3 linked regions of the Homo sapiens genome follow. The protein of the gene in region 3 interacts with the protein of the main gene of each other region in a biochemical or structural test. Each region holds a gene or a part of one and is shown on either strand. Other genes may lie near its edges. The genes, in order: PTPRJ, PTPRG and TEK.

Region 1 (3,730 bases), on a different chromosome or scaffold from region 3:
TCAAGTAGGTGGGACCACAGGTCCACACCACCATGCCCAGCTAATTTTTTGTATAGACAAGGTCTCACTTTGTCATCCAGGCTGGTCTCAAACTCCTGGGCTCACCTGATCCTCCCACCTCTGCCTTCCAAAGTGCTGAGATTAAAGGAATGAGTCACCCTGCCCAGCCAATAATTCTTAACATTAGGGGAAAAAAAAGTATTGTGACTGAGCTCAGTTCATCTTGCACACACCCAGAGTTATTCCATACTACTCTGTGGAAAACACTTCATAAATATTTGTCATATGGGCCAGGCGTGGTGGCTCAGACTGTAATCCCAGCACTTTGGGAGGCCAAGGCAGGTGGATCACCTGAGGTCAGGAGTTAAAGACCAGCCTGGCCAATGTGGTGAAACCCCGTCTCAACTAAAATACAAAAACTAGCCAGACATGACGGAGCGTGCCTGTAGTCCCAGCTACTCAGGAGACTAAGGCAGTAGAATTGCTTGAACCCGGGAGGCGGAGGTTGCAGTAAGTGGAGATCACGCCACTGCACTCCAGCCTAAGCAACAGAGTGAGACTCCGTCTTAAAAAAAGAAAAAATTGTCATATGAACTAATGATCTGGGGCCTCATTTCTTCTCTCCAAGTAACAGCAGCAGCCACAACTAGCAGTTGGGCCTTGCTTTAGGTGTTACGTAGCAATTCCTTTTCTATCTTATTTGATCCTCTCAACCACCCAGTGAAGCAGGAAGTGTTAGTCCCATTTTCCAGATAAGGAAATGAGAAGTCACAGAGGTTAAGTGACTTGCTGAGTTTATGCAGTGGCAGAGCAAAGACCCAAACCCAGGTCTTTCCATCCCAGACCCCAGTCTATCTCCACAAAGGCAGACTTGCCTTGTAAACTGAGGCCCCAAAGAAATATAAGCAGGAAAGAGGGCACCTGGGTTCTCTGTGTTACAAATGGAGCAGATCATACAGGGTTTAGGACACAAAGAACCCAAAATAAAGGTAGCATGTCCCTGCAGTCCTGGCTACTTGGAAGGATGAAGAGGGATGTCAACTGGACCCAGGAGTTCGAGTCCAGCCTGGGCAACACAGCAAGACTGTCTAAAAAATGTCTGGGCCAGGTGCGGTGGCTCAGGCCTGTAATCCCAGCACTTTGGGAGGCCGAGGTGGGCGGATCACCTGAGGTTGGGAGTTCAAGACCAGCCTGGTCAACATGGCGAAACCTCATCTCTACTAAAAATACAAAAATTAGCTGCGCATGGTAGCGCACGTCTGTAATCCCAGCTACTCAGCAGGCTGAGGCAGGAGAATCGCTTGAACCCGGGAGATGGAGGTTGCAGTGAGCCGAGATCGTGCCACAGCACTCCAGCCCAGGCAACAGAGTGAGACTTCGTCTCAATAAATAAATAAATAAATAAATAAATAAATAAATAAATAAATAAATGTCTGCCACCTCCTCTCTTAGCTGCACACAGAAAACCTTCTCCATGACTTTTTACAGCACAGGATGGTAAATTGGGGCAGTGGAGACATCAGCCCTGGCTCCGCCACGTAGTAGTTAATGAATCTATAGTAAATTATTTTTCTTTTTTTTTATTTCTCTGTGAAGATTCCAGAAGTATACAGTTAAGTTCTGAACCTCAGTTTTCTCTCAGATAAAATAAAAACATGGCTGGGTGCAGTGGTTCATGCCTGTAATCCCAACACTTTGGGGAGCCAAGGTGGGCAGATCACTTGAGCCCAGAGGTTCAAGACCAGACTGGGCAACATAGCGAGACACCATCTCTATTAAAAAAAAAAATTAGCCAGGAATGGTAGCACACGCCTTTAGTCCCAGATACTTGAGAGGCTAAAACGAGAGGAGCCCTTGAGCCCAGGAGGTTGAGATTGCAGTGAATTACGTTTGTACCACTGCACTCCAGCCTGGGTGACAAAGCAAGACCCTGTCTCTTAAAAACAAAAACAGGCCGGGCACGGTGGCTCACGCCTGTAATCCCAACACTTTGGGAGGCCGAGGTGGGCAGATCATGAGGTCAGGAGATCAAGACCATCCTGGCCAACATGCTGAAACCCTGTCTCTAATAAAAATCCAAAAATTAACTGGGCATGGCGGCACGTGCCTGTAATCCCAGGTACTTGGGAGGCTGAGGCAGGAGAATCCCTGGAACCCAGGAGGCGGAGGTTGCAGTGAACCAAGATCACACCACCGTACTCCAGCCTGGCAACAGAGCTAGACTTCATCTCAAAAAAAAAAAAAGGCCGGGCACAGTGGCTCACGCCTATAATCCCTGCACTTTGTGAGGCCAAGGCAGGCAGATCACCTACGGTCAGGAGTTCAAGACCAGCCTGGCCAACATGGTGAAACCCCATCTCTACTAAAAATACAAAAAGTAGCCAGGTATGGCGGCATACGCCTGTAATCCCAGCTACTCGGGAGGCTGAGGTAAGAGAATCACTTGAACCCAGGAGGTGGAGGTTGCGGTGAGCCAAGATTGCACCATTGCACTCCAGCCTGGGTGACAGAGTGGGACTCCCTATCAAAAAAAAAAACAAACAAATAAACAAGAACAGCACCTACCTCTTGGTATTTCTGAAATGGCCAAATGAAATAATGCATTAAAACCCTTAGCACACAGTGCCTGTCATGCATAATGTTACCTATTAATTATAATATCATCAGTGGCATTATATTAGAAGGGAAACACACAGAAAATTGCCTCTTATCCTGCACTCAAAATAATTCCCTAGCCCAAGAAGTGAATGAACTGAGAAGTAATTACTGATGATCCTCTGGCTACACCCAGGCCTACGGTTGTTCAGCCACTCTGCCTCAGCCCCAACCTCAAGCAAAAATTACTTTTAGGAGCTAAATAACCCCTTTGCTGACCAAAATTGCTCATTTGGAAGCCAGGATCCTCTCTGCTTAGGAAAGCTTGGGTATTCCATGGTTATCTTTATCGTGGGGCCCAACTTGAAGTCAGCTCAAAGTCACGGTCTAACCATAAACCAATTTGCTGTTTTCGTAAACTGTCTGCAAACAAAACATAATCGTTTGGTTTTCCCGTTGTCCTGAAGCAAAACAAAAATATTTAAAGTCACTCATATGAGAATCTAACAAGCAGTTTAAAGAGGAGTCAAAATATACTTTGTACTCTGGATGGAACAGGTAAGGAATCAGGCTTAAGGATTAGCCATGAGAGATAATAAACCCAGTTATTATTCACCAGGAAACAAGAAAGTGAAGATAAAACAAAACCAAAACACTACAAGACCAATAAAACAGCTATCAGTCACCAGCTTTTTTTTTTCATTTATTCTTTTAAAATCAGCCCACATCAAGCTGATTTCTTAAAGAACCTGTCAGGATTAAATTTCTCAAGGAGGCAGGAGGAAAACTGCTTTGTCACATTGCCTAAAACATACACACAAACCAAAACTACTGTGCAAAACTGCTATGAGAATGGGAGGAGTCAGACACTGCAACTAGCAAAGTCCTCATGTTGGAATCATCTCTGACCGTCCTTCCTGTCTTAGAAAAGGGGAATGAGATGCCAGTTCAAAAATTGCTTTTCCGGGCCTACTAAGCACTGAGCCTTCCGGCATCTCAGCTTTCCAGCTTCCACACCCGCCCTTATTAATGTCCAAACAGAGCTGTGTCTTTTCCATGACTTGTCCATTTGTTTAACCTGGTATAGTTGATTCCATTTTATAACACACACATAAGCACATACACACACAATCCA
Region 2 (3,500 bases), on a different chromosome or scaffold from region 3:
TGGAGAAGAACACTGATCTCATATACTCCATTAGGATGGATGCCAGCCCCCAAAAAATAGGATTGACAAAATGGTTCAACCAAGCTACATAAACAGGAATAATAATCAAACTACTGGGCTGGTTACTTATAAAAGCCTTAGAACAATGTTAGTTCAGTTCAACAGAAATGTACTGAGAACTAGTTAAGTACTCCTTTATCTTCAAGAAACTTGATTAGCTCGTAATCAATAGCATTAAGCAATCTTTTTTAATGTAGACTCACGTAGGTCTTTTATGCCAGTGAGGATCACAGAAAAAAATTCACAGCAGCAGTGACATCACATAACAGAAGAATCCACATAGTTCTAGAAATATCTATTGCACACAGTACCTATTTCTACCTGATAGTAGAAATAAGAAAGATACAATCAAGGTCACTGAGAGAAGTACCACTAGGAAAGCACAAGAGTGTTCTCTGGGGCTGGGCATGGTAGATTACACCTGTAATCCCAGAGCAGCCTGGGAAACACAGGAAGACCCCAATTCTATAAACAATTTTAAAAATTAGCTGGTTGTGCTGATGCACCTGTGGTCCTAACTACTCAGGAGGCTGAGGTGGGAGGATCACAGTTAACTGAGCTACAATCATGCCACTGCACTCCAGCCTGGGCAAGAGAGCAAGACCCTGTGTCTTAAAAGGTTCTTTGTGGCACAGAAATGGTCTTGTTTATCAGTAATCTGATTGGGATTTTTGCCAAAGCATCAAGCAAATGCTATCAATTATATCTTTGAATGAAGACTAAAATGTTTTTTCTTTTTCAGCTGGTCACACAGTGTAATGCAAAATATGTGGAATGTTTCAGTGCTCAGAAAGAGTGTAACAAAGAAAAGAACAGAAACTCTTCAGTTGTGCCATGTAAGACTTTAAAACAGTTTGTTAGTGATCTTTTATACTGGATTGTATGTTAGGTACAGAGGCAGCCACTACTCTGATGCTATTGATAGCACCCTTCAATTGTACTGTACGTGGCCGTATGGTAGAAGGTTTTGAAAATGTCCTTTTAGTAACCTCATTAATGTATGACTTTATACCAGCCTCTTACCTGGTACTACCAAAAGGGAAAATGTTATGCTTATTCAACTAAGGTAGTTTAATGAAACTGGGAGAGGTGGTTGTCAGTGTCAGCAAGTGCTCCATCTATCTGACGTAGAATACAGCTTCATTTCACCTTGGAATGCAAGAATTGGGTTACTTCTACCATATTATAACATAAAAAATAATAATAAAGCTGTTATTGCTGTGGCATTAACATTCCTCTAAAACTTAGAATCCTGGATTAATCTGTACAACTAGAACTACCTTATTCAGTTACTGTGGCTATTGAGATCAAGGCACTGTTGATTGGTGGTGACCTTTGTATAAATAGCTAAGGACATTGCAGAGGATGCTGTCTGTGTGCTGTAGGCATAGACATGGGTGATCATTTGGGAGATTTATCTCTAATGAAAAAGGCCACTCTTTTCTAAGACCATCATGAGCAGAAAGACATGGAGAAAGGGGTTGGTAAAAGGACAAAGTATATGTTGGTATAATTGTAGGAATAACAAACTAGAGTCAAAAGTTATCTAAAATCCTCTGTTGTGTCCATATAAAGTATTCTGTTATTGATCTGCTGTAAAAATCTCTCCCACAGTAAAACTGTATTCCTACAATGCCTGTGTCCTTCTGGGTATGTGCAGCAAAATTTCATTTTACATTCTGCCTCAGCTGATAACACTTTAGCTTGTTTAAAAATATAGATAAGTCTTAGAAAGGGAAGCCAGGAGGATATGTTATTCATCAAGCAAATCTCAGAAAGAGCTGTTGGTTCTGTGTGTATAATAAGGCAAATGTGGTGTTTTTGTTTTTTCCATATGATAGCTGAGCGTGCTCGAGTGGGTCTTGCACCATTGCCTGGAATGAAAGGAACAGATTACATTAATGCTTCTTATATCATGGTGAGAGTCAACAGTTAATTATAAATAAAGTCAACTAAACTGAAAGGTGTTAAAGAGCAGATACCACCTGTGTGACTGATGTCATTTTTGAAATAATTTCTCAATGTGTAATATGAAAAGTATAGAGATTTCTGTATCTTGAAACTTTTAACAAAAGATACCTAATCAGTGCTGGTACAAAAATGCTTAAATTAAGCAGAATGCTTCTTAAGGAATTAATTTTATTGTTAATTTCACACATCTAGTCTTTGAATAAATGTTGAAATTTCCCTTAAGTGAAAACAGCAGGGTTAACTAGAAGTGAACTGCACATGGAGAGAAAATTGTCTGCACAGTGCTAGCAGAAGTACATCTAAAAATTAGCCAAATGTACCGAATGCCTTTCTCAATTATTTTAGTGTAGTCAAAACAGTGCTATCTTATTTCATGAATATATTTTACTACCACAAAGTTAGAATAAAACACTCATATTCACTGATTTTTTTTGTCTTCCCAACTGAAGGGCTATTATAGGAGCAATGAATTTATTATAACTCAGCATCCTCTGCCACATACTACGAAAGATTTCTGGCGAATGATTTGGGATCATAACGCACAGATCATTGTCATGCTGCCAGACAACCAGAGCTTGGTAAGTAAAGCACATCTGCTATATATTAATGAGCCCATGAGGCTACAAGCATAAATTACTTTGATACTTTGCCATAGGGCTATAGTATCCATATATGCTAGGGAGGGAATTTAAAATTTTTAAATTCTCATCTTGAAGTCTGTGGAGATTCCTTTCATAGTCTCACAATACTGTCCCTATCAGTTCCATTACTTGAGTCTCTGATGCTATTGATATCACCCTTCAATTGTACTGTCTGTGGCGGTGTGGTAGAAGGTTTTGAAAATGTTTTTAGTAACCTCATTAATATATGACTACACCAACCTCTTCCCTGCTGTATGTCACTTTTGAAAAGTAAATAATTGTAGCTTACAGGTACTGAGTATGTAACTGTGTTTACATGCATTAACTTGTTTAATTCTCAACAATTTTAAGACATACATACTATTATTATCTCATGTAATAGCTGAGAAAACTGAGAACAAACTTGCTCAAGAGAGCACACACAAGTAACTGGAGCCAGGATTTTAACCTGAGTCATCTGTCTCCAGAGACCATGCTTATATAATCATTTTACTGTATGTCTTACCCCAAAATATTGTATCAAAAGTACTAATAGTGAATTTTTTTTTCCCACTCCATAGGCAAGTCAGGTCTACTGCAGGGATAGGCTATTTTGTTCCCACTTAAAGGTCTTTAGGACTGAGCTGCTACTACTTTTCCCTCCCTTAGTCCTTCTCTATTTCAGTCTCTAAACTATACAGAAGGGTGAGCAAGTTTATAAAACAGACTTAAATGTTTCTGCTTAGATCTTGTGGATACTTAAGTTTCGGAATTAGCTGGGTCTATAAAAGTTACTGTGTGGACATGTGAACCCATGAGGTAAAAACAAAAAACAGTGAGGATCTGCCT
Region 3 (3,730 bases):
AATTAAATGTCTAAAAACGTGGAATGTCAACTAAAGAAAATGAGTAGTATTTTGAAAACAACTTGTAGGTTGATTTTTCTGTCTTTGCAAGAACTCCTAAATAGTTGTGAATATTGCCAAAAGTCAGGTCCAGTTATAGTTATAACTTGCTCATAGCCAAATGATTTTGAAACCAAGATGAAAAGGAAAAGGGAAGAAAGGACATAGAGGGAGCAACCTATACAAAGGGGGTGTGTATAAAATAGCAGGGCAGGCTTAAGGAAGCTGAGTGAAGCTGTAATGTAGGATGAAGGTAGAGAATTAAAGTTGGGGTCAGATCAAGAAGGGCCTCACAGGCCATTTTAAGTAGGTTGTCCCTCATTCTGTACATGTTGAAATTTAGCAGAGTGTTTGTTCTATCATGTCATATATCAGATTTATGTCTTGAAAAATTCACTCTAATAATAGTTTTCAGGATGGATTAACATGGTAGAGACCATAGGCTGGGACCAAGTTGGCTTCCTAACATTCCAGGCAAGAGGACTGTGAGGATAACAGGGGGCTTGAGAGAGATTTAGGAGGTGAAACTGCAGGAGTTAGTGATTGGTTGTATATGGAAGGTTGAGAGGGAGGGAGGAGAATAAGTCATTGCTCCAGCATTCTGATTTGGATAATGGTGGTGCCATTCAGTGTGCTGAATGGAGGTGGGCTGGGATAAGGCAAATAATTATTTTGTTCATGTTGATTTTGAGGCTACATGTAAAGGAAGTTTTTTTTTTTGAGACTGAGTCTTGCTGTGTCGCCCAGGCTGGAGTGCAGTGGCACGATCTTGGCTCGCTGCAAGCTCCACCTCCCCGGTTCAAGTGATTCTCCCACCTCAGCCTCCTGAATAACTGGGATTATAGGCACCTGCCACCACACCCGGCTAATTTTTGTACTTTTAGTAGAGACGGGGCTTCACCACGTTGGCCATGTCTTGAACTCCTGACCTCATGATCCACCTGCCTTGGCCTCCCAAAGTGCTGGGATTACAGGCGTGAGCCACCGCACCTGGCCATAAAGGAAGATATTTATCAAAATTTGGCTGCCCACATCTGAAGCTCAGAGGAAGGGGATTGGGCAAGAGATTGAGATGTAGAAATCTTTGGTATATGGTAAGTGAAGCCACGGGCATGGCTATATTTCAAGATTGAAATGAAGGAACGAGAAAGAGCAGATACCCAAAAATTTGATGAAGAAGAAACAGGTAAGGAGCTGACAGGAGAAGCAAAACCAATGACATTCCTATCCTGGGACTTTAGAGAATTGCTGCTGTAGCAGCCATGGAAAGAAATTTTTTTTTTTTTTTTTTTTGAGTCGGAGTCTCGCTCAGTCCCCCAGGCTGGAGTGCAGTGGTGCGATCTCGGCTCACTGCAAGCTCCGCTTCCCAGGTTCACACCATTCTCCTGCCTCAGCCTCCCGAGTAGCTGGGACTACAGGCGCCTGCCACCACGCCCAGCTAATTTTTTTTTTTAATTTTTAGTAGAGACGTGGTTTCACTGTGTTAGCCAGGATGGTCTCGATCTCCTGACCTAGTGATCCGCCTGCCTCGGCCTCCCAAAATGCTGGGATTACAGGCGTGAGCCACTGCGCCCGGCCGGAAAGAGAATTTTAAGAAGACAGTAAGATGGGGCAGCAGAGTAACAGCCTCCGGGCCTGACACTGGAGCACCAGCCTGCAGGTGTGTTATTTTACAGAGAGCCAGCTGCACCGGCAGCATCACCAAACCAGAGCTGGAAGAGAGCAGCTGGCTTCACTCCTGGCTTTCAGGAAAGGGAATGTCTAAAGTTGCCTCCCTTATTTTTGGAATTTTGAACTGATAACCCTATTCTTACCCATCTGGCCAGACGATTCCTTAACTCGTGTTACACCTGCAGAATGAGTTTTAGATCTAGCTGTGACCTCTTCCCCCAGCCCCACCCCCATTGTCCCCTTGTGTGCCTTCAGGAATCTGATCATTCTTCTCTCCTGCTCCTTCCCAAAGGCTGCAGGAGCAGGTGTGAAGACGTGGATGTGCCAGATGCAGAGTCCTGACACTTTTCAACACATCTGCATATTAGAGGAAGTACATACCCATTGCTTGGTGGTTTCATGTCTAATGTGGTATGAGTGTGACAAAGAGAGGGAGAAAATTTGGACTAGCCAAAGAAGCCAGTCAGGCGTGGGGTTTGAAGGGCATCGTGGGCGGCTGTCATTTGCTCTCTGCTTGTCACAGCCCCTTGCCCAGGGCTTGACCAGTGAGGTGTATGTGCTGGTCACACCCATCTCAGCAGATCTGTCAGCTTTCCCGCTTTTGTTAAAGGGTGATATCATGCTTCCTGGGGGGAGCACTGGAAGACAATGCTCGGCCACTTTCCTCCAGATACAATAGGCGGAGTCAGGAAGGCAGTATTGACATTGCTGGGGCTGGGGAGGCACTCACTGCTCTGCGGCCGTCAGATGGTGAACCAGCTTAACCTTGGCACACAGGGCCTGGGTTGTGCAAGGCGTCTGGCTGCAGAGCCAAAGGGGACTCCACCCTGGGGACAGGAGTGCTTTAGACATCTGGGAATCTGGGATGGGCTTCAAATTCTGATCCCTGTGTCAGAAACAACCACAAAACAATAAGAGTACCAGTAATAACAAAAATGACTACCCTAGGTTGAATGCCTTTATGTGCCAAGTGTTAAATATGATTTTTAATATTTCACAACTTTACACTATAGGTATTATTATTTTTTTAATAGACAGGGAAACCAAGGCTCACAAAGGTTAAGTGACATGTCCAAGGTTAAAATGTAAGTGACCAGCCAGGTGTGGTGGCTCGTGCTTGTAATCCCAGCACTTTGGGAGGCCAAAGCAAGCAGATTGCTTGAGCCAAGGAGTTCGAGACCATCCTGGGCAATATAGGGAGACCCATCTCTACAAATAATACAAATATTGGCTGGGTATGGTGGCACACACCTGTGGTCCCAGCAACCCGGGAGGCTGAGATAGATGGATCGCTTTAGCCTGGGGGTTTTAGGCTGCATGAATGTCGTGATCATGCCGCTGCATTCCAGCCTGAGTGACATAGTGAGACCTCATCTTAACAACAACAAACCGGAAAATGGCGGCCATCCATTATTTTGGATGCCTAACATTTCAAACTTTCAAGAACTGCCGTGCTTTCCCTCTAGGTGATTCTGATGGGTCTGCCAATCACTGGTCACAGAATGTCCCAGCCAACTAACAACAGCAGTTGGTTCAAACAGAAGATGCACAACCCAACAGGGCCAGTTAGACTCTTTCCCTGGGAATTTATGAGCACTTTGAAAGCAAAAGCCTCTCTTTCTTCATAGAGGACACTGTATCCCTGGAGCTACCAACTTCGCTGACCACTTGAAGGAAGCTAGTCTTTAGTACGAGAGAATGAGGCCAATAACAAAAGATGGACCAAGACAGGCACTCTGATAGCATTTGAGACGTGGGTCCAAGGATTTTCAAACACGCAGCCCTGCCTCTTTCAGTTCTGTGAGCTAGTTTCTTTTATTTGTTTAAGCTATTTTGAGTTAGCTTCTATCCCTTGGAAGTGAATCATCCTGACTGACCACATGTCTCAGTAGGAAATGATGGAGACAAGAGTTACACTGAAAAATGACCTGAACCCGAATCCTGGGCTCTTTAAAACACCTCACTGTGCTGCCTTCGAACTAGTGTTTCATGGTCACCTCAGGTTAGTTCCTAGAAAATG

What was found.
Region 1: of the proteins of TEK (region 3) and PTPRJ, one has a biochemical effect on the other in vitro, tested with the Homo sapiens proteins (one large-scale study listed by IntAct).
Region 2: of the proteins of TEK (region 3) and PTPRG, one has a biochemical effect on the other in vitro, tested with the Homo sapiens proteins (one large-scale study listed by IntAct).

The regions. Positions count from the first base shown.
Region 1 is NC_000011.10:47,983,373-47,987,102, reverse strand, and holds part of PTPRJ (receptor-type tyrosine-protein phosphatase eta isoform 1 precursor), read right to left. Parts: intron 1-3,730. UniProt on the Homo sapiens protein: Tyrosine phosphatase which dephosphorylates or contributes to the dephosphorylation of CTNND1, FLT3, PDGFRB, MET, KDR, LYN, SRC, MAPK1, MAPK3, EGFR, TJP1, OCLN, PIK3R1 and PIK3R2. Plays a role in cell adhesion, migration, proliferation and differentiation.
Region 2 is NC_000003.12:62,275,071-62,278,570, forward strand, and holds part of PTPRG (receptor-type tyrosine-protein phosphatase gamma isoform 1 precursor), read left to right. Parts: intron 1-802; coding exon 803-896; intron 897-1,901; coding exon 1,902-1,978; intron 1,979-2,480; coding exon 2,481-2,609; intron 2,610-3,500.
Region 3 is NC_000009.12:27,115,548-27,119,277, forward strand, and holds part of TEK (angiopoietin-1 receptor isoform 1 precursor), read left to right. Parts: intron 1-3,730. UniProt on the Homo sapiens protein: Tyrosine-protein kinase that acts as a cell-surface receptor for ANGPT1, ANGPT2 and ANGPT4 and regulates angiogenesis, endothelial cell survival, proliferation, migration, adhesion and cell spreading, reorganization of the actin cytoskeleton, but also maintenance of vascular quiescence.